Linked DNA regions of Homo sapiens. The protein of the gene in region 5 interacts with the protein of the main gene of each other region in a pairwise test. Each region holds a gene or a part of one and is shown on either strand. Other genes may lie near its edges. The genes, in order: ZNF20, SHFL, ATP5PO, HMG20B, CCDC136, JMY and HDAC4.

Region 1 (3,985 bases), on a different chromosome or scaffold from region 5:
TTACCAGAGAAAGAAAGACTTGATTGGAATAGTGATGCTGACTTTGTTCTTTACTGGGCAGGAAATTCAGTTTTCAAAAACATATTGGCCCCATAGGACTCAAGGTGATTTTTTTAAAAAAGTAGTAGCCAATTGTGGTGGCTCATGTCTGTAATCCCAGAACTTGGGGAGATGGAGACAGAAGAATCACATGATCCAGCAGTCAATGACCAGCCTGGGAAACAGGGAGACTCCATCTCTACAAAAAATAAATAAATAAAATCATAGTATATACCTTGATAAGAAGTGAATTTATAGATTTTAACTGAGGTATGTTATGGTTAACAATGTCCATAAATTGTAGGGAATATATCAGGGTTTAGAGAATAGTATGGTAAAAACTGGTCCAGAAGTCTGATGGCTGGCCTCCCCTCGCCAGAAGGCCGAGTCTTTTGCCCCTGAACAGGCACATGTCATACACCTGCAATGTGAGATGATGCTCTTCAGTGACCATGATGGATCAATACAAAAATAACTAATTCTTGGCAGGGCACAGTGGCTCATGCCTGTAATCCCAGCACTTTGGGAGGCCGAGGCGGGTGGATCACGAAGTCAGGAGATCGAGACCATGGTGAAACCCTGTCTCTACTAAAAATACAAAAAATTAGCCAGGCGCGGTGGCGGGCACCTGTAGTCCCAGTTACTTGGGAGGTTGAGGCAGGAGAATGGCGTGAACCAGGAAGCGGAGCTTGCAATGAGCCGAGATCGAGTCACTGCACTCCAGCCTGGGCGACAGAGCAAGACTCCGTCTCAAAAAAAAAAAAATTAAAATAAAAAAAAACCTCATTCTTTAACCATGTCTTGAAATGTGACAGAAGAAAACACTTTAAATTGCAAACATACCCCAAATTTTTCTCTTCTCACGAAATGTGACTATCTTTTAATATCTCACACATCTCACAGTCATCTATGGCTTTTGGTCATATTCATTACCACAGTATATTATTACACCCTCTTTGACGACACTTATGCCACTGGTGGTCTTTGGTCAGAAGTCACTCATAAGAACATGAGATCACCTTTGGTATTTAGAATAGATGAAAATTCATGATCCAGATAAAAACTAAGAATATAAGCATGAAAAGTAAAATCTACATGAGGAAAAATATGCCTGACATCCACATGGCAACACTGACTCACAGTGACCACCGGATAACATGGTAACATTATCAACTTGATCTAATACATGATGTTAATGGGAGGTTGTAATGTAGCTTCTTCATTAAAAAATAATAATTGTTAGTATGCAGTTGTTATAAACAGTTAATAAGCTTATTTCTAAAATACATGAACAGAAGTATTTGTTGCCAAGAAACCGCATTAGTGTTTTTAGTCAGGTATACTCATACAAAGTTAAAAACGAAGTGAGACATTACATTCAGTTGTGAATAACAGCAAATGCTTGAAATTTCCTGATAAGAGCAAGGTGGCTCTTCTCACATAAAAGCCCTTGGTGAGACCAATCACTGCACAATGCAGCAGAGGAACAAGCTCCCATCTAGTTGGTTTAATCAAGAACAGGCTCGCTAATCCGTAGAAACAACAATGCTTGCAATACAAAGTAGACCTCTTAAACCAACTCAATCTATAGAAGAGTTGGGCATCAGTGAGTATTTCCAGCCATAACAACATTTATTAGTTCTCTGGTAAACATTTTAACATTTCTGAAGAAACAGCAAAGTGGGCATGTATCTTTAATGTGGAGCACTGGGGACATATCTGGAGACCTACAACTCTGAGGAACAGAGACAAGTGATTTGGGGGATATTCTCGATTAACAAGCCAAAGAATCAGGAAAATGGGCTGGAAGCGGGTAGCCACACACCTCTCTCCCTGTGTGGGGCCTCTAATATGTGACTGATGCCTTCCTTTTCTGTGCCTTTGAAATCTCATGCAAGATTGGCTATAGGTGAATTGTATTACGAAACCATCCAAGTTCTTCTAGATTTTATTGTCCTATCGCAAGTCTCTCTTCTCAATTCAAAAAGCAGTTATCCAGAGGTTCTTTCACCACTCTCTTTTCTTGTGTTTCAAAGGAAGTGGGACAACAGAAAGCTTCTCCCGTTGCTTCCACTAAAAGGATTTCTCATCTATTAATGGTATGAGTTCTTTCATGTTCTCGACATGAACTGGCACGAATAAAGGCTTTGCCACATTGCTTGCATTGATAGGGTTTCTCTCCAGTGTGAGTCCTTTCATGATATCGAATGTAATTGGAAATAAAGGCCTTACCACAGTGCTTACATTCATAGGGTTTCTCTCCAGTGTGAGTCCTTTCATGATATCGAATGGAACTGGAACAAGTGAAGGCTTTGCCACATACCTTACACTCATATGGCTTATCTCCAGTGTGTGTCCTTTCATGTATATGCAAGGAAGAGAAATACCTGAATGCTTTTCCACATTGCTTACATTCATGGGGCTTCTCTCCAGTGTGCGTCCTTTCATGTATACGCAAGGAAGAAAAATACTTGAATACTTTTCCACATTCCTTACATTCATGGGGTTTCTCTCCACTGTGCGTCCTTTCATGAATTTGAAGTTGTGAAGCACATCTAAAGCCTTTCCCACACTGCTTACATCCATAGGGTTTATCCTCAGTGTGTGTCTTTTCATGCCTTTGAAGGTCCGAGGTACATCTGAAGGCTTTACCACATTGCCTACATTCATAGGGTTTCTCTCCAGTGTGAGTCCTTCCATGCTTTTGAAGGTGTGAGCCACATCTAAAGGCTTTCCCACACTGCTTACATTCATAGGGTTTCTCTCCAGTGTGAGTCATCTTATGATACTGAATGGAACTGAAAGAAATGAAGACTTTCCCACATTGCTTACACTCATAGGGTTTTTCTCCAGTGTGAGACCTTTTATGTCTACGAATTTCACTAGGAAAACTGAATGCATTCCCACATTCTTTACATTCATCGGCATTCACTCCTGTGTGAGTTCTTTCATGTACTGGAAGGGTAGTGGAACGAGTAAAGGCCTTACCACATTGTTTACACTTATATGGTTTCACACCAGTGTGAATTCGTTCATGGATAAGACATAAATTGAGAAAATAGAAGGCTTTCCCACAAAACTTACATTTATAAGGTCCATCTCCACTGTGCATTACCCTGTGTCTTTGAATGCATGAATGGGAAATGAAGGTTTCTGTACATTCTTTACCATCATAGGGTTTCTCTTTAGTGCAAGCTTTATCATGTGATTGAAAGGAGTCAAGATAACTGAAGGCTTTCTTACATTCCTTATTTCTATATGGATTCTCTCCATATTCCTGATACTCAGATGACTTGTGTCCAGTGTCAGCTCTGATATGCGTATTAAGAGATGAATGACCCGTGCCAACTTCTCCACACACACTGCTTTCACATGGTGTTATTCCAGGAAGAGTTTTCCTGTTCAGCATGTCATCTGCAATCTGGTTGAAGCTTTCTCCACAGTGATGACTTTCTTTACTTTCACAGAGTTTCTCTCTCATAAGACTTCAGTGAAAAATGAGAAGCACATTATTAACGGTTTGATTAAAAGTGACTTATAGGGCCGGGCACAGTGGCTCACTCCTGTAATCCCAGCACTTTGGGAGGCTGAGGTGGGCAGATCACCTGAGGTCAGGAGTTTGAGACCATCCTGGCCAACATGGTGAAACCCCGTCTCTACTAAAAATGCAAAAATTAGCTGGGCGTGGTGGCAGGTGCCTGTAATCCCAGCTACTCGGGAGCCTGAGTTGGGAGAATCGCCTGAACCCCAGAGGCAGAGGTTGCAGTGAGCTGAGATTGCGCCATTGTGCTCTAGCCTGGGTGACAAGGGCGAAACTCTGTCTCAAAAAAAAATAAAAAAATAAAAAAGTGATCTATATTGGCTGGGTATGGTGGGTCACGCCTGTAATCCCAGCACCATGGGAGGTTGAGGCGGGCAGATGGCTTGAGGCCAGGAGTTTGAGATC
Region 2 (2,947 bases), on a different chromosome or scaffold from region 5:
TGGGGTGAGCACAGGATGTCCCAGGCACGTGGGGCTCTAGGGAGGGAGAGGTGCTGCAGACATGGGGCTGGAGGTCCCATGAGAGTCTGGGGAGGAGGGGACTTAGGCCACGCGGGGCTCTAGGGAGGAGCTGAGACCACCAGATACGGGGACCAGCACAACTGGACATTCAGGGGTGTTGAAGATACAGGAGACCTGGGGACATGGGGGTCACCTGAGATTACAGGGGACAAAACAGGGGCCCCAAACCCAGAGACCATGGGGGCAGAGGCCATGGGGACCCTCAGGCACGGGCCACTGGGGTGAAACCTCAGAGCCTCCTGGGCAAGACCACGGAGACTGGGGGGTCATGGAGGCCATGTGGAAGCAGTGGCTGCTGCTGTGGGAGACAAAGTGGACTGAGTGGAGATTTGGGGACTTAAAGGCACAGAAGGGGACAAAGACTGTCCAGGCTGTTGGGGGAGAAGAGCCTCACCTCGCCGGTTGTAGCAGTCGGCAGCTGAGCAGGAGTGAGTGTGGGTGCTGCGGCGATCCGGGTCCCGGTCCCAGCGCGGGGGGAGGATCCGTGTTGGATACACGGGGAAGCCGCACCCGTAGCAGGGGGACGGGGACCCCATCTGTGCCCAGCCCCTGGGGGCGGGCAGGGCTGTGAGGGTCCGAGGGCGAGGCTGGGCCAGGGTGGGGCCAGGGCAGGGAGGGGCAGGGCTGGGGTAGGGCAGGGCTGAGGGGGAGCTGGGGGTCAGCGCCCTCACCGGAAGTTGTGCCGACACTTCGGGCAGTGGAACTCAGCCAGGCCCCACATCTTGTCAGCTGGCACTGGCTCGTAGCGCTTCCGGCATTTCCGGCACCGGGATACCTGGTGGTGGTGGGCAGGAAGGTACAGAGAGGGGACCAAGGATTGTCAGAGGTGTCTGAGGTTGGGGTCAGGGCTAGCAGTGTGCTGCAGCGGCTGGCCTCAGCTTGAGCAACCCAACTCAATCAGTGACTTCACGTGGGTAGCCTGATATTGACCATGGTGGGAATATTTACACCACAGAAATTGGCAAACACTACACATCTTGGCTTCCTGCCTCTTTTGCAAGAACTAGTTAAGCATTGACCAGAAGTGAACTACTAGTCAGGAGGTTCAGAAGCCAGATTTGGGGCTGTGTTTTTGAGGTCAGATTTGGTTTCTTTTCTTTCTTTCTTTTTTTTTTTAGAGACAGAGTCTTGCTCTGTCACCCAGGCTGGAATGCAGTGTTGTGATCATGGCTTACTGCAGCCTCGACCTCCCAGGCTCAAACGATCCTCCCACCTCAGCCTCCTGAGTAGTTGGGACCACAGGCACACACCACCACTCCCAGCTAATTAAAAAAATTTTTTTTTGCCAGGCACAGTGGCTCATGCCTGTAATCCCAGCACTTTGGGAGGCTGAGGTGGTAGATTGCTTGAGCCCAGGAGTTTGAGACCAGCTTGGGCAACATGGCAAAACCCCATCTCCACACACACACACAAAATACAAAAATTAGCCAAGTGTGGTGGCGCAGGCCTGTAGTCCCAGCTGCTTGGGAGGTTGAGGTGGGAGGATCACCTGAGGCCAGGAGGTGGAGGCTGCAGTGAGCTATGATCCCGCCACTGCACTCCAGCCTGGGTGACAGGGCGAGACCCCCTGTCTTCAAAACACATTTTTTTTTGGAGACAGGGTCTCACCCTGTCACCCAGGCTGGTCTCAAACTCCTAAATTCAAGCGATCCTCCCTACTTAGCCTCCCAAAACACTGAGATTGCAGCCATGAGCCACTGCGCCTGGCCAGGTTTGATTTCTGTAGTAGCTGTTCAATTGTGGGTCAAGGGTCAGGTTCTGGGGTAAGGAGGTATTGGGCTTCTCACATTTAAGGTCAGAAGTCCAGTCCTGGGTCAGGGGTTGGGATCAGAGATCAAGGCTGAGCTCTGAGTTTGGAGGTCAGGGATTGGACTCTCAGTGATTGAAATCCTTAGGTCAGAGGTACAGTCACTGAGGATAGGAGTCAGGAGTGGAGTTCGGGACAGTCAAAGTCGAGGTTAAGTTTTAGGTCATCACCTCCTTCCGCTGGGGCACGCGGCGCCACCAGACGTGGTCGCAGGAGGAGCAGGCAAACTGCCGGTCCACAGCAGGGATAAGGTCGTCCTGGGCACGTTGAAACATGCGTAGGTTGGCTTCTGTCAGTGGCAGGAGGGAGGTCGCCACTGCCTGTGGAATGGGGCAGGTGGGGATGAGGTGGGGGGGTGTCACCCCTTCTGCACCAACATAAGCATCAGCCCTCCTCTCCCTACAGACGAGTCCTCTTCCTGCCCCAGTGAATATCTCCCCTCCTGCCCTAATGGACATCCTTCTGTGCCTGCAGATGTCCCCCTCCCAACTCCCCCATCCCAAGCCCTAGCCACCAACTCACCTGAATGTCCCGGTCCTGCTTCATATCTTCTGGTGGATCCTGGGTGGAGATAGCAGGGGCAGAAACTGGGGATGGGGCTCAGGCCTCTTTCCACCCGTTTGCTGGGGGAGGCCCCCGGCCGCAATGAGTAGGGTGCCCCTAACTCGCCAGAAGCTCACAGAGCACCACTCACTTATTGAGAGCCAGGTGTGTGGCCTCAGTTGTCCTCATAGCAGCCCTGAGAGGTGGGCACACCTGTTACCTTATTGCTCAGATGGGGAAACTGAGGCTTAGGGGAGGGCTTGCCTGAGTGAGGCTAGCCTGACCCCCATACTCACTTCCTGCCTGCAAATGCCACATGCTTGTTGATGTTGTGACATATCGCCCCTTTGAGGCCACGTTGTGCTCGGCTAAGTGGGAGAGAGATGTGGGTTCAAATCCCAGCTGTATCACTTCCAGCTGTGGGGACTTGGGCAAGCCACTCCCTGCCCCCTGGGTTCCCACTGACAGGCATGTTAGAGCCCAGGCTCTGACTCCAGGTGGCCAGGGTTCAAATCG
Region 3 (4,234 bases), on a different chromosome or scaffold from region 5:
GCAAACGATTCACTTAGGGAGCTGGTTAAGATACAGACTCTGATTCAGCAGGTTGCTGTGAGGCCTGAGATTCTTCACTGCCAACAGGCTCCCAGGTGATGCTGATGCCGCCCACAGTCCATGGACCACATTTCCAGTCATAGTTTCAAGACACCTCAAATGAAAAAGTTCTAATACTCACTGATCAGATTGGTAGTGAGGGGAGAGAACCTCTCTTTTGCTGTGATGTCATTTAGGCTTTTCACTTTAATGGAACGCTTCACATAGGGATTCAAAACAGAAGCAGCCACTTTGGGTTCCTTCAGGATTTGCTGAAAGCATCAAAAAATAATTTCTTAAATTTTTTAGAGCACAAATGAAGGATGTGCCATGCACACACTTTCTTTCTTTCTTTTTTGGAGACAACGTCTTGCTCCGTCGCTCAGGCTGGAGTGCAGTGGCGCAATCTTGGCTCACACAACCTCCACATCCCGGGTTCAAGCGATTATCCTGCCTCAGCCTCCCGAATAGCTGCACCACCATGTCCCGCTAATTTTTGTATTTTTAGTAGAAACGGGGTTTCGCCATGTTGACCAGGCTGGTCTTAAACTCCTGACCTCGAGTGATCCACCCACCTCGGCCTCCCAAAGTGCTGCGATTACAGGCATGAGCCACTGTGCCCGGCCATACAAACACTTTCTTATGAATTAAATATTTTATGAATTAAATTAGCACTGCCGAAGAACATATGAAAAAAAGATTATAATCAAACAATTTTCTGACTGCCTTTCAGAATACACTGTGCACTGCACCAGGATTTTATATAGAATGATGTTCCTCAAAAAAATTTAAAAATACTGTACGAACTTTCTTAAATTTGTTTTTGCTTTTCAAGAAAGATTATAAAACACTAAACAGCCAAACCTTCATTAGACTGCATACTTTAATATATTTAAGAGAGGAGTCGTCTGGTTTTCTAGCAGTGCTATTTCTAGAGTGCAGACCTCACAACTGTGCTCTGACCACAGAGGCCTCCGCACCGCTCCCTTGGAGGGGCCCTGCCTCTTACAGAGTCCAGGGAACCCAGCAGATTCTGTGAGGCCTCTGGTGCTGCCAGAGCGGCCCCAAAGAGTCTGGGAGACAGAGTGGACAATAAAACAGGAGCACAACCATCATGGGAAACAACGTTCTTCTCATTTTGTTGTATCACAGTGTCTGAATTCAGTGACCAAGTGCAGCTTCCAGCATGTTGCTCCAGAGTTCCAACAAACGAACAGCAGTTTCCAGTTGAGCACCTTCAGTTAACACACCTCTCTATGCTTTTCAATTACGCTCCTAGCACCTCCTCCCAGGCTCCTGGCCAGAATCCTGCCTCTGATCCAGGATACTGGTCAGATACTATCATCCAATGCTAACATTTCCACTTGAGTGACCCCACAGAAATGACATTTTTCCATAAAAAATGCAGGAATATACAGATTTAAAGCATTCTGGAATTTGGGTTACCTAGTTTTTCATGTTTATCTGTGTCTCCTGCATCATCCAGAGGACAGTGCGTATCCTTGTATCATCCTTCCCTCTTAGTGCCAAAACCCTGCTAATATTCAGTGTCTTAAGGTAATTGCCTCCCTTTTTCTCCATGTCTCGACTGACTTCCAGGCTTTAGACAAACTCTATTCTAATATCCACAATCCAAGTAATTCTCTCCATTGTAAACATGATTGTTTCCGTTTAAAATGGGCATAACTGACAAGTAGCAGACAATAACCATCACCTCCAAAAATGCCTGTGTGAGACCCCGTCTGTTCCTGCATGCCCTTCCCCCAAATGTCTCCAACAACAGGGCTGGGCTCCTGGGCTCTGAGAGAATCATAAGAGTTTATCACACCAGCTAAGACCTTAAGCATTATCTGCAGAGATAAATGGATCAAGGAAGGAATATGGAGCTAAAATTATTCTGCCTGTTAAGACGGAAGTTCCAATAGAAGCTCAAGTGAAAAATGAATAAAACATAAACAGTACAGAACAGTAATACTTATAGACTATACATACGATGATTAATATAGAACGTAAGTATTATTACTCTATACAACTGGCCTATGAATTGTTTTTTCTAAACAATAAAAACTTGCAGATATGTGAATTAAAGAATGAAGAATCTTAAAATGAAGAAAAAACCAAACTTCCTCTGAAGAGGCTATATACCAGACTGCGTCTCCCTCACCTTTTTTAATGCAGACCTTACTGCCAGTGGTGGCGCTAGAAAATCGAAGGAAGCAACAGAATGTGTAGAAACTTGTTAACTAGAAAATTCGGTGAAAACGAAAGCAGACATTCTCCTATTCAGTTACAATGTAGGCTTCTGGTAATACGGTTTATTTATTCTGCTTTTCATGTTTAAAAAAAAAAGTAAAAAACATCTTGCAGCAGCCTCACAGTCTTTGCCTGTCAGTCCTCTACTACTACTGGGAAGCCCATGCCCCTTTACTAACTCTGCTGCCCAGCGCGCCCCACCCTGTTATTCTTCCCTCACATTTTGGGAACAAAATAATTAAGAGGTTTACCAAAACAATGAAAAGGTCTACATGGTTACTTCTGGGGTTCTGGCAATTGCAAAGGCATCTCTACCAAATGAAAACAACCTGTAAGACATATCTGAGCCTCCTCTGATTCTACAAGCATAGAATATGGCAATTAAAACCTGAGGAAAAGGTTTCATGAAAACAAATTCTCAGTAAAACCAAATCACAATATATTCTAAACACCTAGCCCATAAGCATAGGTTTTTTTTTTTTTTTTTTTTTTTTGAGACGGAGTCTCGTACCGTCCGGGGCTGGAGTGCAATGGCGCGATCTCGGCTCACTGCAACCTCGGCTTCCCAGGTTCAAGCAATTCTGCCTCAGCCTCCGGAGTAGCTGGGATTACAGGTGTTCACTACCACGTCCCGCTAATTTTTTGTATTTTTTAGTAGAGATGGGGTTTCACTATGTCAGCTAGGCTGGTCTTGAACTCATGACCTCCTGATCTGCCTGCCTCAGCCTCCCAAAGTACTGGGATTACAGGCGTGAGCACTGTGCCCAGTTATAAGCATAGATTTTTAAAGGTAGCTTTTAAATTCTCTTCTGAAATAGCAATTTTCCTAAATTACCATCCATTTTAATCTTATATTTCTACCTTTTCTTAGCCCCTAATCTTGGTTCCTAATATTAATATCCTTATATGTATCTGTTTGTTCTTTTTATATGTCTTATAATAAAAACCCAATATTATTACTAAAAATGTGTTTACAGACAATGGCTTTTTCCCAGTTTTTTCTTGTAGGATACACCTCATTAGGAATGCACAAACAACCAAAGGAAAAAATATACAAACAGGAACTTCATATGTAATGAATAGGAAAGCTACTTACTGCTACTCTCAACAACTCCTTTTCTACTTGCTCCAGCTTATTCTGTTTTGATGCAGCAGAATAAAGAGCTGTGGCATAGCGACCTTCAATACCGTATACCTGAACAGGAGGCTTTAAAAAAAAGGTGAAATAGGAGAGGAAAGAAAAAGGAAAATCAGTTAATAGTATACTCTCAAGAGCAGAATTTAAAATTTATATTTTAAAAAATGTATCTCTTTAACACAAAACAGTTTAAATATGTCATTCAAGAGCTGTCCTAAATGGCAATTTGCAAATAAATTAGCGATGTTTCCTTGGTCAGGTCACTCAATCTTTGAGCCTCCAATTCCTCATCTGTAAAATGAGGGGCTTAGTAGGCATTGTCTAAAGTCCCTTCCAGGTTTACATACCTTTATCAATTACTTGTACTTTAATTTTGAGATAAGCTTATGTTTCCTTTGAACTCAGTAACTATTTAGTTTCAAGTATGGGAGGTTGTGAACACTGATAGACAGTTTCGAGTATGTTAGAGCTAGGAAAACAGGTGTTTATGAAACACACAAGTATACTTTTATACATTTCATACTAACACTACACATTTTCCCTTACATAGCCTCCCTATCGATGTTCAGTGTAACAGAGCCCTTTGGCAGTTTACAAAAAAACCTGATGCTTGAATTATTTTTCACAATAAACTATAGACTTTTTTTCTACCATCAATGTATGACTACATGTTCTTAGTGGTGCTGTATGGTTGTAGTGGGAAAGCTCAGGCTTGGATGAGAAAGATTTAGTTCCAGTCCAGCTCTAGGACTAAGCTGAGTAACCTCAGGTAAATTTTCCCAGGGCCTCAGTTTCCCCTTTTGT
Region 4 (4,374 bases), on a different chromosome or scaffold from region 5:
AAAAATTAGCTGAGTGTGGTGGTACACGCCTGTAGTCCTAGCTACTCAGGAGGTTGAGGCAGGAGAATCACTCGAGCCAGGGAGGCGGAGGTTGCATTGAGCCGAGATCGTGCCACTGCACTCCAGCCTGGGTGACGGAGCAAGACTCTGTCTCAAAAAAAAAAAAAAAAAAAAGGCCACACAGTGTGTGGTCCCATATCCAGGACACGTCAATCCACAGAGGCAGGAAGGGGATTTGTGGGTGCCAGGAGCTGGGGAGGGGATGAGAGTGACTGTTGATGAGGACAGGACTTCCTCTGGGGGTGATGAGAATGCGTTGAGATTAGATAAAGGTGATGACTGCACAAAATTGTGATGTACTAAATGCCACTGAATTGTGCATTTTAAAATGGCTAAAATGGCCAGGCGCGGTGGCTCACGCCTGTAATCCCAGGGTTTGGGAGGCTGAAGCAGGAGGATTGCTTGAGCCCAGGAGTTCAAGGCTGCAGTGAGCTATGATCGGGCCACTGCGCTCCAGCCTGGGTGGCAGAGTGAGACCGCGTCTCCAATAAATAAACAAAATGGCTATGATGGTAAGGTTCATGTTGCGTATTTTACACAATAAACAAAACCGTGGCCCACCCAAAGTCACTGTGCTACAAAGTGGACTTGAACCCCCGTGCGGACACAAGTTGAAGGATGAACTGAGCAGCCGTGACTGTCCCCTGTGCTTCAAGTCCCCCACGTGTGCTGAGCCCACAATGCCCAACTTTAGGTAGGGGAGGGATGGAGACACCTGCCCAGCCATTGACTTGCTCTGTGAACCCCGGCAAGTTTGGGCTCCCGTCTCCCTATCTGAGAAACTCTGAGGCTCTGCTAGAGGTAAAGAGAGCAGGCCTGGCGCCCCCAGCAGGGAATGTCATGGGGGGCCCAGGCTGCACCTTCTGAACCCTCCACACCACCCCAAACAAGCTTACACACTCACAAGCTTAAAACACAAATTTTACTTGTTTTTATTTAAAAAGTCCGGATCCAGCAGTGAGAAGGAGCCACCCCCACCAGGGTCCCTCGGCTGGAGGAGAGCAGGATGGGCAAAGCCGGCCCCCACCCATCTGGGGTACAGGCATGCGGGGGACACCCCAGGTAAGTCCCCACAAGGCAGCTTCCTGTGTGGCCTATGGCACAGCCCCCCGTAGTGAGTAATTTGGGGGGTCCTGCCGTGTGCTGGGGGTGGGTTTCGTCTGCCCTGTGTCCTGGGGGTGGCCCGGAGAGCCAGTGTAGCGCGTGGCTGTCCTCCGAGGAGGGGCACCCTCGGCTGTGAGGTTCTTCTGGGTGTATCGCGCAGCGAGTGCTTTTTCCGGGTTCAGGGGGCTGGGGAGATTGAAAGCTAAAGGGATGCTGCAGAAATTTAATTTTAGGGGGGCTGGAGCCCCCAAGGTGCAGGATGGGACCAGGCCCCAAAGGGTGGACCCCCAGCCTCTCGTCCACGGGGTGGGGTGTGGCAGGGCCGCGCCCACAGCTTCTCCTCTGCATCGTGGGCCCGCCCACTCCTCACAGGTGCTCGCTGAAACGAGAGAGGAGGGCCCGGGATGAGGCCCTCATCATCTCTGGCCCCCACCCCGGCCCTGGGGAACCCCAGAGACCATGGCCCATCAGCTGCTCCAACAGATGCCAGGGTTGGGGGACAGGCGTTGAACCTATCTAACCCGGGCGCTGGGATCCACCCTGAGAAGCTTTAGGGAAGTTCTGGTGCCCCCGAGTGGGTCCCGCCGGCCCGGGGTTCTCCATGGCCATCCTAGCACTGGTGCATCAGGGGCGACCGCAGGTAGGCCCCTCCGGGAGGTGATCTCTAGTAAGCTGCGGAGTCCCACCCAGCAGCCCTCGCGGACCTGGGGAACCCCAGGGCGGGCACATCCGGGCCTTGAACCCCGGCCCCGCCCCGCCTCGCCCGGCACACACCTGGCGACCTGGGCCAGGATTTCCTTGATGCGGACGATGAGCTTCTCGTGCTGGGCGGGGTCGCGCTCGATGGCTCCGTGAAGCCGGGCCATGTAGAAGTCCAGAGTGCCCAGCGTGGGCGTTTCGCCCGTGCCTGGGGGACAGGCGGGAAGGTCAGGCGAGGGTGCCGGGGAGTCGCGGGGCGGGGGCTCCAGGGGCAGCGGTAGGGGGTGACTCAGGGCGGGTCGCGCGGGCGCTCAGAGGTCCGGACACCGCCAGCGCAGGAGCGGCGCAGGGTGGGCTAAGGTAAGCCGGGGCAGGAGGATGGCGAGGACGGGGACAGGGTGGGGACGCGGGGCTAGAGCGGCGGGCGTCCAGGGTCCGCTGAGGACAGTCACGGACGGAGGGAACGAGGTCGGGGAGGTGGGGATGACACCGGGGGGCTGGGGTCGCGTGGGACGTGACTGGGGTGGTGGAGGGGGCTCAGGCGTCAGCGGGGCGTGGGGAGGGATGGGTGACGGGGGCGTGGGGAGGTGGGGTGAATGGGAACGTGGCGTGGCGAGCGGGGAGGCTGGGTCAGTGCTCAGGCTGGTCGGGGGCTGGCGAGGGAGAGGGGCCAGCGACGGTGGGGCCGGTAGGGAGCGGTGGGGGCGCGAAGGGTGGGGGCACAAAGGGGCTGCGGGAGGAAGCGAGTAAGCGGGGACGCGTCGGGAGAGGTCGTGGCCGGGAGGCGCGGTCGGTGGGGGCGAGGTCAGGGAGCCGGCCGAGTAACGGGGCGCGGAGCGGAGCTCGGGTGTGGTCTGGGAAGAACCAGACGGAGCTATGGGGTAGGGGTGCGGGGGTCGGGGAGGAGGCGGAGCTGGGGGTGATGAGGGCGGGGCGATAGGCGGGGCCGGGTGACTGGGGAAGAGGGGACGGGGCGATGGGCGGCGCCGGGCGACAGGGGAAGGGGGGAAGGGAGGAGGGGGGGGGAGGCGGGCGGGGCCGGGTGACCGGGGCGGGACTGGGAGATGGGCGTGGCCCGCACCCGGCACCGGCAGTGAGGCGAAGCTGGCGGTGAGCGCCTGGCGCACGGCCTGGAGCTGCTGCTGCAGCGCCAGCGTCCTCCGCTCCTCCAGCGCCAGCTCCTGCTCCAGACGCTCGCGCGCGCTGCTCATGCTCTGCGTGTGCCTCTGCAGTACCGCGTTCTGCTCCTCGAAGGCCACATTCATCTTCCGCAAGCGCCGAAGCTCCGCCTCACGCGCTGCGCCGGGGGGAGCGGGGTCAAAGCCTGCGCCTCCCCTTTCCCCTACCTCCGGGCTTTTGCCCGGGACGTGCCCCTGCCCAGGTTTCCCTCACTGCGCCCTCTGCCTCCTGCTCCACATCAGCCTCTGGAGCGACAGCGTGCGCCTGGACGCTCATAGGGAACCTCCCGATCCGCCTCCTGCAGTCTTGGGGCCCTCCTGGCCCACGCCCCCCTCTACCACCCAGTTTCACGGAGTTCGCATCAGGAGCGCAGTTACCGCTCACCTTTGTTTTGGTCCAAGAACTCTTCAGTGAAGATGGGAACATCGAAGGTGGAGAAGCCATCGCAGTCCCCACCCTAAGACGAAGGGACAAGGTGGCAATTTACTGGTGGTAGGAGGCAGCCACGCTCTCTGGGTGTGCCCCAAGCCTAGGAGGGTCTCCTGGGACACCCCGGTGGGAGTACAATCAACAGCGATCCCACGGTGCAGTGGCACCGCCCCTGCTTGCACACATCTGGGCGAGCACTGGCTCTGACTCAGGGTTCTAGAAGCCTCCAGACCTTTCTCCCCCAGGTGCTTTGAGAGGAAGAAGGTCGCTTACCTTGTGTCCATTCAGGAGAGTGTTCATGAGCCCAGAGCTCGAGTCTTCTGGCGGGGGAGGGGAAGGGCAGGGTCAGCCTCCCAGGCCTCCAGGGACCACGCCCTGCACCCTAGGTCAGCGCTGCTCAGCCGGCTCCAGCTCCCCACTTGAGTGCCCCGCGTCTGGGCATCCCCCATCGCTGTACCGAGTGAGCCCCCTTCACTCCTGTCTGGCTATGTATCTTTCCCCCGCCCAACCCACGGGACTGTGCCCCACGGAGGGAGGCCCTGCCTGGGCTGAGGTCGCACCCCACAGAGCAGGACCCCAACTGCTCGCACCGGCCCCTCCCACCTTTCATTTTTCTTTTTCTTTTTTTTTTTTTTTTGAGACGGAGTCTCGCCCTGTCGCCCTGGCTAGAGTGCAATGGCGCAATCTTGGCTCACTGCAACCTCCACCTCCCGGGTTCAAGCAATTCTCCTGCCTCAGCCTCCCGAGTAGCTGGGATTACAGGCACCCGCCACCACGCCCAGGTAATTTTTGTATTTTTAGTAGAGGGGGAGGGTTTCACTATGTTGGCCAGGCTGGTCTGACCTCAGGTGATACACCCGCCTCGGCCTCCCAAAGTGCTGGGATGACAGGCGTGAGCCACCG
Region 5 (4,234 bases):
GAGCTCCCACAGGTCTAGGGTTTGGTTTCTTCTGTGAGATGGACACTCAGTAATGACCACCATTTCTAGAATGCAGTGCTATATGACTTCTACAGTTGGTTTCCAGCAGACTGTGCCCAGTTGCAGGGCAAGAGTCAGCAGAGCACAGCCATACTCACTGTGCCCACCCCGGTTGAAGCAGCCCCTCCATGAGGCCCTTCTGCCCCCACCCCAGATGCCTCCCCGGGCAGTGTTTACCTGGGTGACACTGTGGGAGGTCTGAAACCGAAGCACCTCATTCTGAGCACACTTGAGCTCCCTCTGCAGCCGCCTCTGCTCCTCCTCACTGACCTGGCGATGATGCTGTAGCTCTTCCAACTCACAACACAATTCCTGACACTATGTGGGAAATGGAACAGGGAGGCTTGTTTACTACAGATACCACATATGCTCCAAGAACAAGCTTGGGGAAAGCATGGCGCTCTTTGACTGGAAGATTTACATCAGGCAAGTGAGACCCCAGAGTACTATCTCCCTCCACAGTGGATGCCTATGGAGATGTTTCTACCACAGGCTGGGAGAAGGTGAAAGAAAGACAAGAAATGTGCCTGCCTTCCCCACCCTCTGTGCCCTACCTTGTTCTTCATGCCATGCATCTGCTCTTCAGCATCCCGTAGCTGCTGCCGTAACAACTGCATTTCAGGATCAGGCTCTAAGAAATCCATTTCTGAAGTCTGAGACTCTGCTGACGTCATACTCAGTGTTTGGGACTGCAGCCATCTCTCTGTTGCTCTCTGTGTCCTGCAATTCAGAACCGCAGAGCTATGCTTGAAGGGAGTTCTGCCTGGCATCACCAGCCATGCAGGCTTTGTCCTGATACCTTCATTTTAGGCCAAAGATAGTAAGGGGCCTTCTATTGTGACTCACCGCTCAGATAAACATGCTTAAAAGACTACAGAAAGTCTCCAGCCCCTCAATCTGCAAAGGTGTGTTTGGCTCTGGGAGACCCTTAGAGTGCCAGTCCAGTTAGTTTTGAGGCTAGGCCTAGTCAAGCCCACTCCAATCTGGAAGCATTGTGCCTGCCATTAGACTGAAACAAGTCTATGCAGACAATAAAAGAATCTCTTCTGATCCACTTTAGGGCAGAGCAAACCAGAACCCAGTGCCTAGAGCAGAAGTAAACTTCAGAACTCACTCCCTCTAGTCTTGAGATAATTGGGTCGGATCCCCATGTCTGCTTGTAGGTGGTATCTGTATCCTTTGGAAACCATGGAAAGGACTGGGTCTCCAGGAGCAAAGGAACGCTCACTGCCCTGGCATCTGCCTTCAGGGAAAGCCCAAGGTAAGGCAGAGTCCTGTGGAACCCCATGACCTCTCACTCTCCAGAGACAGCTGTACCTCTCACTCTCCAGATCTGCAAGCTGCCCCGTGAGGCTGCTGTTGCTCTCCTGCAGGGCCCGGTATTCCTCATTCAGGAAATGGTAGCGTTCCCGCAGCTCCTGCAGTTCTTCTGCAGAGGACAGGCAGAGAGAGATGAGACCGGGAGGAAAGGAAAGCACTGATGACCAGCCCCCAGTTTTCCTGTCTTGAAACCTGAGAGCAGAAGGTTAAAGAGCTTCTCTTTTTCTAAAGACAGAAAAAAGGTAGAGGCTTAGAAGACAGGGCCCAGGAAATTCCACAGTGCAGTGAGTCTTTCTCCTCTTCCCAATAGCTGTCCTTCTTCTCATCTGCCCTGAAGATTTACCCTGTGTGCTCATCTTCAAAGCCTCAACCGAAGCAGACTCTTGAACTTTTAGCAATTTTTGAAAGTTTAATTAACTTTCAAATTTTTACTGTATGTAAAAACTTTCAAAAGTTTACTGTATGTAAAATTTCCATTCAACTGTTTATGATTACCTTCCAATTATGCTTTTAGTACAAAAAGCTGAGAGATGTGAACTGTCAGATGTGACTGCCAGTACCTGCCTTTCAGGCATTCTGAGTTTCCTTTTATGTTCTTTATTCCCACACCAAATACATTGGTCTGGATGTGGTAAAGAATTCTTGCCAGGTGTAGTGGCTCAAGCCTGTAATCCCAACACTTTGGGAGGCCGAGGTGGGCAGATCACTTGAGGTCAGGAGTTTGAGACCAGCCTGGCCAATATGGCAAAACCCCTGTCTCTACTAAAAATACAAAAAGTAACCAGGCGTGGCGGTGCATGCCTGTAGTCCCAGCTACTCAGGAGGTTGAAGTAGGAGAATTGCTTAAACCCTGGAGGCAGAGGTTACAGTGAGCCAAGACTGTGCCACTGCACTCCAGCCTGGGTGACAGAGTGAGACTCTGTCTCAAAAAAAAAAAAAAAAAGGAATTCTTTCTAATGGCCTTTTATCTGCTGACAGGCCCATCCTAACCAGACTCACATATCATCCTCAAGCATTAGAAGAGATCCGGTTGAAATACTCCAGCACATGTCTCTAAGCACCAGTCACCTATACCTATACTTTTTCCTTTTTGGTTTTGTTTTGTTTTGAGATAGTCTTACTCTGCCATCCAGACCAGAGTGCAGTGGCACAGTCATGGCTCACTGCATCCTTGACCTCCCTGGACTCAGGTGATCCTCCCACCTCGGCCTCCCAAGTACCTGTGACTACAGGCACACACCACCAAGCCTGGCTAATTTTTGAATTTTTTTGTAAAGATGGGGTTCCGCCACATTGCCCAGGCTGGTTTCAAATTCCTGGGCTCAAGTGATCCACCTGCCTCGGCCTCCCAAAGTGGTGGGAGTACAGGCATGAGTCACCATGCCCACTTTTAAGGCTGTGATGATACAAACACCTGTATCTGTTTTGTTGCTTCATGACTAAGAATTATGTTGGCCGGGTGCAGTGGTTTACACCTGTGATCCCAACATTTTGGAAGGCCAAGGTAGAAGGATCATTAGAGCCCAGGAGTTCGAGACCAGCCTGGGTAACAGAGCAAGACTCTGTGTCCACTAGCAAAAAATTGAAAAAGAATTATGTCTCTTAGAACATTAATTCTACTGATATTTAAAGAACACTAACTTGCTCTAATTAGAACACAAGACCTATCTTACCTGCTGGAAGATTCAACACCCTAAAAGTAACTTCTAATGTTTCCTCTTAATTCTAATCAGAATTCCTTAGAATACTGCAGATTACCATATAAGGGAGGAAGGAAACTAATCTTTAATGAAAACTAACCATGCGCTAAGCATTAGACTTGATAGTTTCAGCCTCAGATTTGGTAAGTGTGCAAGTGATTTCAACATGCTTCACATTTCATTTAATTCCCAAAATAGCTCTGTAAGGTTTTTTTCTTCTTTAAATAAACTTTGAATTTTAGAATAGTTTTAGATTTACAAAAAAGTTGCAAAGGTAGTACGGAGTTTCCTGGGAGGGTTCTCACCCAATTTCCCTAATTGTCAACATCTTACATTACCATGATATACCTGTCATGACTAAGGAATCAAATATTGATACATTACTATTAACTAAACTCCATAGTTTACTTGGATTTCTCTACATTTTCCCTAAGGTCCTTTTCCTGTTTCAGGATCCCATCTAGCTATAAGGTTTTATTAACCAATTTTGATTTCATATCCTGGATATAGAAACAGGCTCAGAGAAAGACCATAACCAGACCTCCTACGTTCATCCTGCTAATTAGTGGAGCTGAGATACTGAACTCAGGTCTGTTTGACTCCAGCCCAAGCCTTCCCACTGTGCCAACCTTCTTCTCCCAGCACCATTTAATCTAAAGGCTCTTCTGAGAGGCTTGATACAGCTGGAAAAACTTGCAGTTCTTTGATTCCTTGTTGATTGCCTCTGCTTGACCTGGCCAAATATAGGACCTCCATTATACTCAGATTATAAATCTAGCCTCAGAATAAAGGCAAACTCTCTGATGTCATGAATCCTAGCAACTAGCTGGGAGACTCACTGTCTGAAAGCAGGGCTCTAGGCTTTTGGGTACCTCATGTATCACTCAGAATAACTTTTCTTCTCTAGCTGTCTTTTGTTCCGATTTGTTGCCCCCCAAAGCTTCTATTTTGAGGAGAGCTAATGGAACCTAAGAATTAGCATCCCTGCACCTGGAAGCAGGGCCAGAGGCCCCCTATAAAGCATTCCAGGCAAAGCACCATGATGCCAGGGCAGCAGGAAGAGTTTCCCAAGGTGACAGGTCCCTCTTTGCCCATCCTAGAGCTGGAAATTTTCCCAGGAAGGGTTTTCCCATAGTCAAATCAACAAAGACCCA
Region 6 (4,234 bases), on a different chromosome or scaffold from region 5:
GTTATTGAGTGTTTGCATGCACGTGTAATCCCAGCTACTTGGGAGGCTGAAGCAAAAGAATTGCGTGAACTTGGAAGGCAGAGGTTGCAGTGAGCTGAGATACTGCCATTGTACTCCAGCCTGGGCAACAGAGTGAGACACTGTCTTTAAAAAAAAAAAAAAAAAGTCATTATTGAACTGACTGCATTTTAAAATAATACCACTCCCCAATTCTCAAGAGTAGAGATTGACATCCTTTCTCTTTAAGGAAGGAATACAGTCCCTTGGATTAAGAACCCCAACAGGCCACAGGCATGGCAGAAAAGGCACACGTTTGGATTAAGACAAATCTAGGCTTTCATCGGAGCTTGGTTACTCAGCTGTTTAGCCTTGGTGAAGTCCACAGGACCTCTTTAAGTCTCATTTTCTGCCTCAGTAAAATAGGTATAAAACACCCACTGATCTCAGCAGATAGTGAATAATAAATATTAGTTACAGTCCCCACAAAAAGGGCTGAATGGAAAACCAGATAATCCTTGTTACATGAAAAAAGGGAAAATAACACTTCCTGGAAGCCTCTTTAGTAAGTGCCAGGCACTTTGTTAGGCCCTTTCTCATACTGTCTTACTCAAATCTTAAGACATCCTTTATTTCCCCCACCTTCCTTTTTAAAAGAGGTTAAATAACTAAGCAGGTCATCAGAAGTGGTTAGTCCTATTTTCAACCTAGGTGTTTCTGACTCCACTCACTCAACAGGCTATTTATTATGTGGCTTACACGGATAATTTTGAAAACACATGCTACTTCCAAACCGTGGTTTCAACAGAAGAGAAGTTAGAATTGAGCACATCTTTATAAACATAATAAATTCCAAAATGAACACTGATGATTAGATCTTAATCAAGCCTACCATCATAATTAAGGTTTACTATCTAAAGCACCACAGTTAATCATCTTGAGAATAGCTGTCCTTATACAGAAACCATTATTTATAAAATCCAGGTCAAACCTAAGCTGCAGTATGGGCCACCAACGCACATACACTAATACAAACCTCAGCTCTGACCAACAACCAAGGCTACTGCTGAAAACTGTTCAAAGAGGTCTTGGTGGCACCTGCATTCATTTAAGGACTGATTCAGTGTCTACTGTATAAATACTGCTTCCAATAGTAAACTCTTGTAAAAGTCCAAATTCAAACATACCAGTAACAAATTTCACCTTTCACTTGGATTTAGCCCCTAAGAAGTATAATGTACATTATAGCATAAACATAACTTTTAAACGCACTGTGAAACCAAAACATTCCTGTGACTCACATTATTGCCTTTCTCTCTAAAATGCACACATGCCCACAGATATAAAACTCGGCAGGACGCCCCATTAAAATCCATCCATAGCCCCTCTTACAGGGAATTCACCATCCCCAAGTAAAAACCTCTTACTGAGGAATTTATTTATGTTTTAAGAAATTTTCCTTTGAAGTACTAAAAGAAAATTTCTCGTTTTAAAAACACTGTCCTTTGAGGAATTTACACTTATCAATTTATAAAAATTTTACTTACAACTTCACATTAAAAGGACACATCTTCTAAGTCCTTTAAATTCTTGCAATAGTAAGAATAAATTAATTTTAAAAACTTCTCTAGTTTCCTTTATCCACTAATTAAGAGTGCTCACAAGATGTGTGGTCCTGAACTAGGGGTGGCAAAGAAGAGAGTTCCAAGGTATTGTCAAAGCCAAGGACCTTGAAAAGCTTACAATCTAGTTGTACAGTCTGTTCTATTAAAAACAAACAAAAAAAAGTTCAACAACTTACTAACCATTTTGAACAAAAACAGGTGATTTTAAGTTGAAACCTTTAAATGGACAGGGAAAGGAATACTGTAGGAAAAAAGACCAAAAAATAGATTCATAGAAATTAAAGAAGGAAAAGGACTAAGTATTGTAAGTGACCAAAGGACTAAGCATTCTAACATATCCTCAAAAGTAACATATCCTCAAGAATGCATTTGATTTATCAGATAAACCTAGCTTGAAAAGCTATAGCCAATTCCACAAACTAAGTCAATAGAATAACACAAACATGGCACAACTTCTATAAAAATGTTACCTTAAAAAATGTTACTGCAAACTATTAAGAAAGCAAAGTTAAATTTAATTAGCTTAAGACAAATACATGGCTAGCATCCTATACACTTTCATTATCATGCCCATGGCAGACATCACCAATCAATCACACCACACTTCCCTCCCTCCCCCAATATAATCTAAAGACACAATCTTCCAGCAGAAGTCAAGATAGGCATTATTACTGAAACTATTTGTTGTCCTTGATGGCTATTTTTCAAATATTGAAGTTGCCGGGTGCAGTGGTTCACGCCTGTAATCCTAGCACTTTGGGAGGCCGAGGCAGTTAGATCACCTGAGGTCAGGAGTTCAAGACCAGCCTGGCCAACACTGGGAAACCCTGTCACTACAAAAATACAAAAATTAGCCAGGCATGGTAGCGGCGACTGTAATCACAGCTACTTGGGAGGCTGAGCAAGGAGAACTGCTTGAACCCGGGAGGTGGAGGTTGCAGTGAGCTGAGATTGCACCAGTACAGTCCAGCCTGGGCAATAGTGCAAAACTCTGTTTGGAGGGGGCGGGGGGAGGCTGGGTGCGGTGGCTCACGCCTGTAATTCTAGCACTTTGGGAAGCTGAGGCAGGCGGATCACCAGGTCAGGAGTTCGAGACCAGCTTGGCCAACATGGTAAAACCCCATCTCTACTAAAAATACAAAAATTAGCCGGACAAGGTGGCACACGCCTATAATCCCAGCTACTCAGGAGGCTGAGGGAGGAGAATCACTGGAACCCGGGAGGCAGAGGTTGCAGTGAGCCAAGATCGCGCCACTACACTTCAGCCTGGGCGACAGAGCGAGACTCCATCTCAAAAAAAAAAAGAAAGAAAAAAAGTATAATTTTCTGTTAAAGAAAATAAATCATTATGGTCAAGAGAACCTTAATTAGGAACACATTTTTTAAAAAATGTAATCCCCTTTTTAAAGAGTTCTAGAAAATTATATTTTTTGAGAGCTTATTTTTGACCCATTTGAATTAAAAAACCGGAGATAGTCGCTTTTTCTCTTTTTCTTTTTCTTTTCTTTTTTTTTTTTGAGACGGAGTCTCGCTCTGTCGCCCAGGCTCGAGTGCACTGGCATGATCTCAGCTCATTGCAAGCTACGCCTCCTGGGTTCACGCCATTCTCCTGCCTCAGCCTCCCAGTAGCTAGGACTACAGGTGCCCGCCACCACACCCGGCTAATTTTTTCTTTTGTATTTTTAGTAGAGACGGGGTTTCACCGTGTTAGCCAGGATGGTCTCGATCTCCTGACCTCGTGATCCGCCCGCCTCGGCCTCCCAAAGTGTTGGGATTACAGGCATGAGCCACCGCGACCGGCCTGACAGTCGCTTTTTCTGAGTATCCAAAAAGTTACAATCAGACAGGCCCATTCATTAAGGGATTTTTAAGAATATGTATTTTAAAAAATATATCTGTAAATCTAATAAGAGAAAGAAGCACTAACGGTTCTTGCAGTTTAAGAGAAATACAGGTCAATATTAACCAAACACTTCTGAGAATATATGTGGTCACTTAAGATTTGTCACTTCCTTCAAAATAATTTAAGGTAGACTCCCGAAGTGAGGTGATAAAAAAGGGAAATAAAAACAGATCCCTGGAACTCTAGGATCATGTTATAGTGGGTGACATTTAGCATACAGTAAACCAACAGGAAGCAGTGAAAATCTGGATTCGGGAAGTTGTAAGAGAGTACTATGGTATAAGTGAGAAACAAACATTTCTTAAATACTCAAATCTAATAAAGAAAAATATCTAATATTCTACGAAAAAAACATGAGGCTCTAGCTCCCTAATCTAACAACAAGGTTCAACTATTATATATACATAAGCAGATAACAACACAATCTTAGGAATATAAACACCATTAAAAGGGGCATTTCAGGCCGGGCACAGTGGCTCACGCCTGTAATCCCAGCACTTTGGGAGGCCGAGGCGGGCGGATCACGAGGTCAGGAGATCGAGACCATACTGGCCAAGATGGTGAAACCCCGTCTCTACTAAAAACACAAAAAGTAGCCGGGCTAACGTGTTAGCCGGGCGTGGTGGCGCGCACCTGTAGTCCCAGCTACTCAGGAGTCTGAGGCAGGAGAATCGCTTGAACCCGGGAGGGGGAGGCTGCAGTGAGCCCA
Region 7 (4,234 bases), on a different chromosome or scaffold from region 5:
TCAGAGAAGTTTAAACATGAGTTTCATTAATGCTGACTGCCCCCGGCATCTGGCAAGCCTCCCAGGGTGGCCGGGCATCCTAAGCAACCCTCCCTGCCCTTGCCACGGAGGGGAAAAACACACCACCCCTCGTAATACTACTAGTGTTGAAAGTTAAAAAGAGCCCCTGGGCTTCTTTATACAGCTCCTAGGACAGACCAGGAAAGACACAATCGTTGGTGTCACTCCGAAAAGACCTACGGTCCCTCCTCTCACTTTCTGAAAATAGAATCTGACAGCAACAATTCTGTACGCTGCAGAAAACTCATCGTACAAAAATAAAAACAAAAATAATTAAAAACCTTTGAAAGGTAAAAAAAAATGTACAAGCAAGAATTCAGAAAGGAAAAAGATTTAGACATTATTACCATTCAGAAAATTGCTAAATGGTGAGGAAAAATGTAAAATTCATAAAACAATGCTTATTCAGGATCTTTTTGTGAAAAAATTCATACAAAAATCAACAGCAAATTTATATTCTTTGCTATAAAAACTCATTAGGTACATATGTGCATGAAGGCTTGGAGACGGGAGCGGTTCTGTTAGAAAATAATTAAAATGAAAGTACAAACTTGTAGGGTAGTTGCCCAGTGGCGAATGTGTTGGCGATCTGAAATCTAGCCAATCTGGAGCTTGAGAAAACATGAATTTCAATCAATCAGGATCCCTTTCCATAAGCACCTTGAGAGCAAATTCACAAGCCATCCATTTGCAGGGACCTTCGCAATCTGCATTCATTTTATATATATATATATACTTTTTCTATAAATGCATTATAAATATTTTATCAAGATTTCATAAGAATCAAGTAAGTTTCTTAGCTTGGAATACATTGGAATATATATTATACATATATATATTTATTTATACCTAAAATTTAAGCAATACTTCATGCTACTTGCTTTTAATAAAAAGCATTCCGATCGTAACACTGCAAGTGTGCCTACCACATGCTTCACGACCAGATGGAGATGCTCAATCGTATGTGACGTGTGAGAACACTTTGGATTCGTTTAAAATTTGTTGGACTTCAAAACCTCCAACGGGATTTGCCACTTTTTTGGAACTACCTCCATTTTTCTTAAACAGCAATAAAGCAAAACAGGGACCGCCGGGCTGCAGCCCCTGGCCCCGGAGATGACGGCTGGTGCCCGTGCTTGAGGCGTCAGGCCAGCTCGCGGTGCCAGCACTGCCAGGCTCGGCTGGCCACAGGAAACTGTCCCACCGATTCCTGCTGTTTGTTTTTTCTTAAGGCATTGTTCCTCAGACTTCAGAAAACCCAGCCACAAAAATCCACCAGAGCAATAAAAAAAAAGGCACAAACTCGCATCTTCCGATGGCTTTTGAGAAACTCAAGCCAGCTCCCCCAGCTCACATTCCTGTTTCTGTCCAGTTTTGTTTTCTTTAAAGGTCCCTCTGTCCCCCACCCGGGTGCAGACCCCCCGCCGCACACCGCTATGGTTCACAGAGGCGGGCCACAGCCGTAGAAAACGTCCTCTTTAAAAAAAAATAAGCTACAAGATGAGTCGAGTGGTTTACACAGAGACTGTGGAGTTGTGGGTAATAAACTTTAAGCACCAGTTTTAATCAAGTTTGTTTTGTATTATTAGATCTTTGATATTTGTTTTCTGTGCCTCGTGTCAACTGAATTCGGCAGCTCGGCCGCCTGTTGCCACAGGCTCCTTTCTTCCACGGCGTCCCTTGCGGGACCCGCCAGAGTGTGCTTGGCTTCCGCGTGTCCGTGTGTCTGCGCGTCGCCGGCGTCTGTCCCGTGTTCCCTGTGAGGCTGCCACGCCCAGGCGTGCATGTGCGTCTCGAGACCTGTGGGCCTGGGCGGCAGAAAGGCTTCCCGTGGCTGTTGCACGCTGGGTGTCCCTGGGTGCTCCAAGAGAGCCCCACGGTGGGACGCAGGCGTGACACGGGAAAGTTTCTTGGCTGAGCTTCAAGACAGAGACAGACAGACAAGAGAACAGCAGCTTCGAGGGAGTGCTACAGGGGCGGCTCCTCTTCCATGGGCTCCTCATCTGGTCTGTGGATCCCGCAAGAGAAGGAGATGGGGGCGTGGGGCAGGTGCACCACAGAGAGGAGAGAACAGAACGTGGGTTAAAGGCTGTGTGCTGCCCCACCCGCCAGCCTAGCCCTGGCCTGGCAGCCCCGGGTCCATCTGTTCAGGATCTAATGCTCCTCATGCGTCTCTAAGGGGCTTTGGCACTGGAAGGAGGGGGCCACACTGGCCTGTCTCTAGTCTGTTGGGCAGGGCATGTGCCATAAAGGTTCTGACCCTGAATAGTGTGTCAGTGGGCACAGTGGGGCTGGGTGAGCCTGCAGGCGGGCGGCAGGGCAGGTGCTCACCTCTTTTCGGCGGGCTTCACGCCCACGGACAGCGAGGCCATGGCGGTGACCGTCTCGGCTTCTTCGTTCTCGCAAGTCTGAGCCTCGATCAGAGAACGCCCCGCTGTGGAGGTTGTGCGCTGCAGGCAGCGCCAGTACTTGCCTGGGGTGGTGGGGTGAGGAAAGTCGCTCAGTGACTACAACTTAGCAGGATGCACTGAGGCCCGGGAAGGTCCTGCGGGACCCTGAGCCTCAAACCAGATTGATCCCTTATGATTTTAAAAGCACCCGTCTTTGAAGAGACACGAAGCAGAAGACTGCATGGCTACAAACTCACAAAGACCCAAAAAATCTCTGGAAATGTTTCCCCATTGTGAGTGGCTCGAGTCCCTCCAGGAGCAGGCCCACCTAGGACTGCAGAGGGAGGCTCCTGTAGGCCTGGCTTTCCACGCTCACGGGCCCCTTTCTGCCCTGGGTGGCCAGGGCAGGGGGCTGCCAGCCTGCTGGGTTGAGCCTTCCTATCTCTGGGAGCAGGTGAGCTGGGGGATTGTCGCTGGGGCTGAGGGGTCTTCTGCCTGGGCCCTCACAGAGGCTGGGGGTGGAGGGGTACTGCGTCAGGCGCAAGGGGGTGTATGTGGAGGGCTGGGCCTGGCCCAGGGTCAGCTTCAGGGCTCTGAAGCCAGGACTCCCTCACACAGGGAAACGGGGAGCTGAGCTCTGGACTACCCCTGCTTCTGTGGACAGTCTCAACCATCTGGGTCATCTCAAAGGCAAGACAAGCTGGGCTTGCGACAATGACAGGGTGTGGGAGGCGCCTCTGAGATAGGCTGCGTGCCACGCCCTTGCACCCAGGACCTGCTGCTTGAGGGTCGGTGCCAGAACTCAGAGGGCCTACACCCTGCCTCTCTGCAGGGCCAAGGGTTCTTTGAGGTCAGGACGTGGGCTTCTCTGGTCCAGGGAAGAGGCCGGAGTCCCCAGGGTACAGGCTCACAGCCATGGCCCCCGCTGCTAGCTGGGGACCTAGAGCAAGTGACTCCACACTGAGACTGTCTGGGCCTTGATTCTCTAGACTTACAAATTGGGCTGATGGAACCATCCCAGCAGGCCGGGGGAAATCCAGTCGGGGTTAAATGTGAGTCTCTACCAGCTCAAGAAATGCAGCTGAAAGCAAGGCCTTCTGCTGCAGGCCTGGGGAAGCAGCCGGCAGTGGGATGGAGAAGAGCTGGGGGTATAGGGGGACAGGGATGGGGTGTGGTGCAGTCCCACCCCCAGGGGCGTGTCCCCTGTGAGCACCCAGCCAGGCAACTTACTGTGGATCTCCATGACTTTCTCCATGGAACGGACAGCGTTTGCATTGGGTCTTTGCTGTAAAACCTTTTCTGGGAGAGGATCAAGCTGGAAGAAAATGCATAAGAATATAAAGACTGCCAATATAATCCACACGTGCGTTAGACGGGTGTTCCGAGACTGCAACTGTTTCCTGAGCACAGAGACCCTTGTGGGGTGCATTTGCCCACAGAGTAGAAAAAAATAACTTTAAAAAGCCAAATGTGCCGTGGTATTTATAATTTTTTTGTAAAAGTGGATTTTTTTTTAGGACGCTATAAGATATTTGTGGGTTCCTACAAGTAGCAGGAAGAAAGACAGTCCCCAGGAGTGGGGCTGGCACCTGCACGTGAACTTGGTATCTGCCATCGACGCCACAGGGTTCCATGAGGGGGAGTGACGCTTACTTCATCACTTTTCTTTCCTTTGTCTTTTATTAATAAGTAAGAATGTCTGAATATCCCCTGATCTTGGTTTTCTTCCAGGGCAGCGGAAGGTGGGGTCGGGGGAGATGAAATGGAAGAAGTAGTCAGATCTC

Evidence for each region.
Region 1: the proteins of CCDC136 (region 5) and ZNF20 interact in binary tests that used the Homo sapiens proteins (3 or more experiments, as listed by UniProt).
Region 2: the proteins of CCDC136 (region 5) and SHFL interact in binary tests that used the Homo sapiens proteins (3 or more experiments, as listed by UniProt).
Region 3: the proteins of CCDC136 (region 5) and ATP5PO interact in binary tests that used the Homo sapiens proteins (3 or more experiments, as listed by UniProt).
Region 4: the proteins of CCDC136 (region 5) and HMG20B interact in binary tests that used the Homo sapiens proteins (3 or more experiments, as listed by UniProt).
Region 6: the proteins of CCDC136 (region 5) and JMY interact in binary tests that used the Homo sapiens proteins (3 or more experiments, as listed by UniProt).
Region 7: the proteins of CCDC136 (region 5) and HDAC4 interact in binary tests that used the Homo sapiens proteins (3 or more experiments, as listed by UniProt).

The regions. Positions count from the first base shown.
Region 1 is NC_000019.10:12,130,462-12,134,446, forward strand, and holds the end of ZNF20 (zinc finger protein 20), read right to left. Parts: intron 3,525-3,985; coding exon 2,126-3,524; 3' UTR 889-2,125; downstream 1-888. UniProt on the Homo sapiens protein: May be involved in transcriptional regulation.
Region 2 is NC_000019.10:10,089,159-10,092,105, reverse strand, and holds part of SHFL (shiftless antiviral inhibitor of ribosomal frameshifting protein), read right to left. Parts: coding exon of another isoform or gene 2,728-2,947; intron 2,628-2,727; coding exon of another isoform or gene 2,617-2,627; exon of another isoform or gene 2,456-2,616; intron 2,450-2,455; coding exon 2,411-2,449; intron 2,209-2,410; coding exon 2,059-2,208; intron 857-2,058; coding exon 753-856; exon of another isoform or gene 631-752; coding exon 476-630; intron 37-475; coding exon 1-36.
Region 3 is NC_000021.9:33,908,901-33,913,134, forward strand, and holds part of ATP5PO (ATP synthase peripheral stalk subunit OSCP, mitochondrial precursor), read right to left. Parts: intron 3,500-4,234; coding exon 3,389-3,499; intron 312-3,388; coding exon 182-311; intron 1-181. UniProt on the Homo sapiens protein: Subunit OSCP, of the mitochondrial membrane ATP synthase complex (F(1)F(0) ATP synthase or Complex V) that produces ATP from ADP in the presence of a proton gradient across the membrane which is generated by electron transport complexes of the respiratory chain.
Region 4 is NC_000019.10:3,575,678-3,580,051, reverse strand, and holds the end of HMG20B (SWI/SNF-related matrix-associated actin-dependent regulator of chromatin subfamily E member 1-related), read right to left. Parts: intron 3,792-4,374; coding exon 3,745-3,791; intron 3,500-3,744; coding exon 3,427-3,499; intron 3,161-3,426; coding exon 2,945-3,160; intron 2,072-2,944; coding exon 1,939-2,071; intron 1,544-1,938; coding exon 1,531-1,543; 3' UTR 969-1,530; downstream 1-968. UniProt on the Homo sapiens protein: Required for correct progression through G2 phase of the cell cycle and entry into mitosis. Required for RCOR1/CoREST mediated repression of neuronal specific gene promoters.
Region 5 is NC_000007.14:128,801,905-128,806,138, reverse strand, and holds part of CCDC136 (coiled-coil domain-containing protein 136), read right to left. Parts: intron 1,490-4,234; coding exon 1,378-1,489; intron 781-1,377; coding exon 615-780; intron 379-614; coding exon 238-378; intron 1-237. UniProt on the Homo sapiens protein: May play a role in acrosome formation in spermatogenesis and in fertilization.
Region 6 is NC_000005.10:79,238,715-79,242,948, reverse strand, and holds part of JMY (junction-mediating and -regulatory protein), read right to left. Parts: intron 1-4,234. UniProt on the Homo sapiens protein: Acts both as a nuclear p53/TP53-cofactor and a cytoplasmic regulator of actin dynamics depending on conditions. In nucleus, acts as a cofactor that increases p53/TP53 response via its interaction with p300/EP300.
Region 7 is NC_000002.12:239,051,069-239,055,302, forward strand, and holds part of HDAC4 (histone deacetylase 4), read right to left. Parts: intron 3,766-4,234; coding exon 3,681-3,765; intron 2,534-3,680; coding exon 2,392-2,533; intron 2,069-2,391; coding exon 2,029-2,068; 3' UTR 1-2,028. UniProt on the Homo sapiens protein: Responsible for the deacetylation of lysine residues on the N-terminal part of the core histones (H2A, H2B, H3 and H4).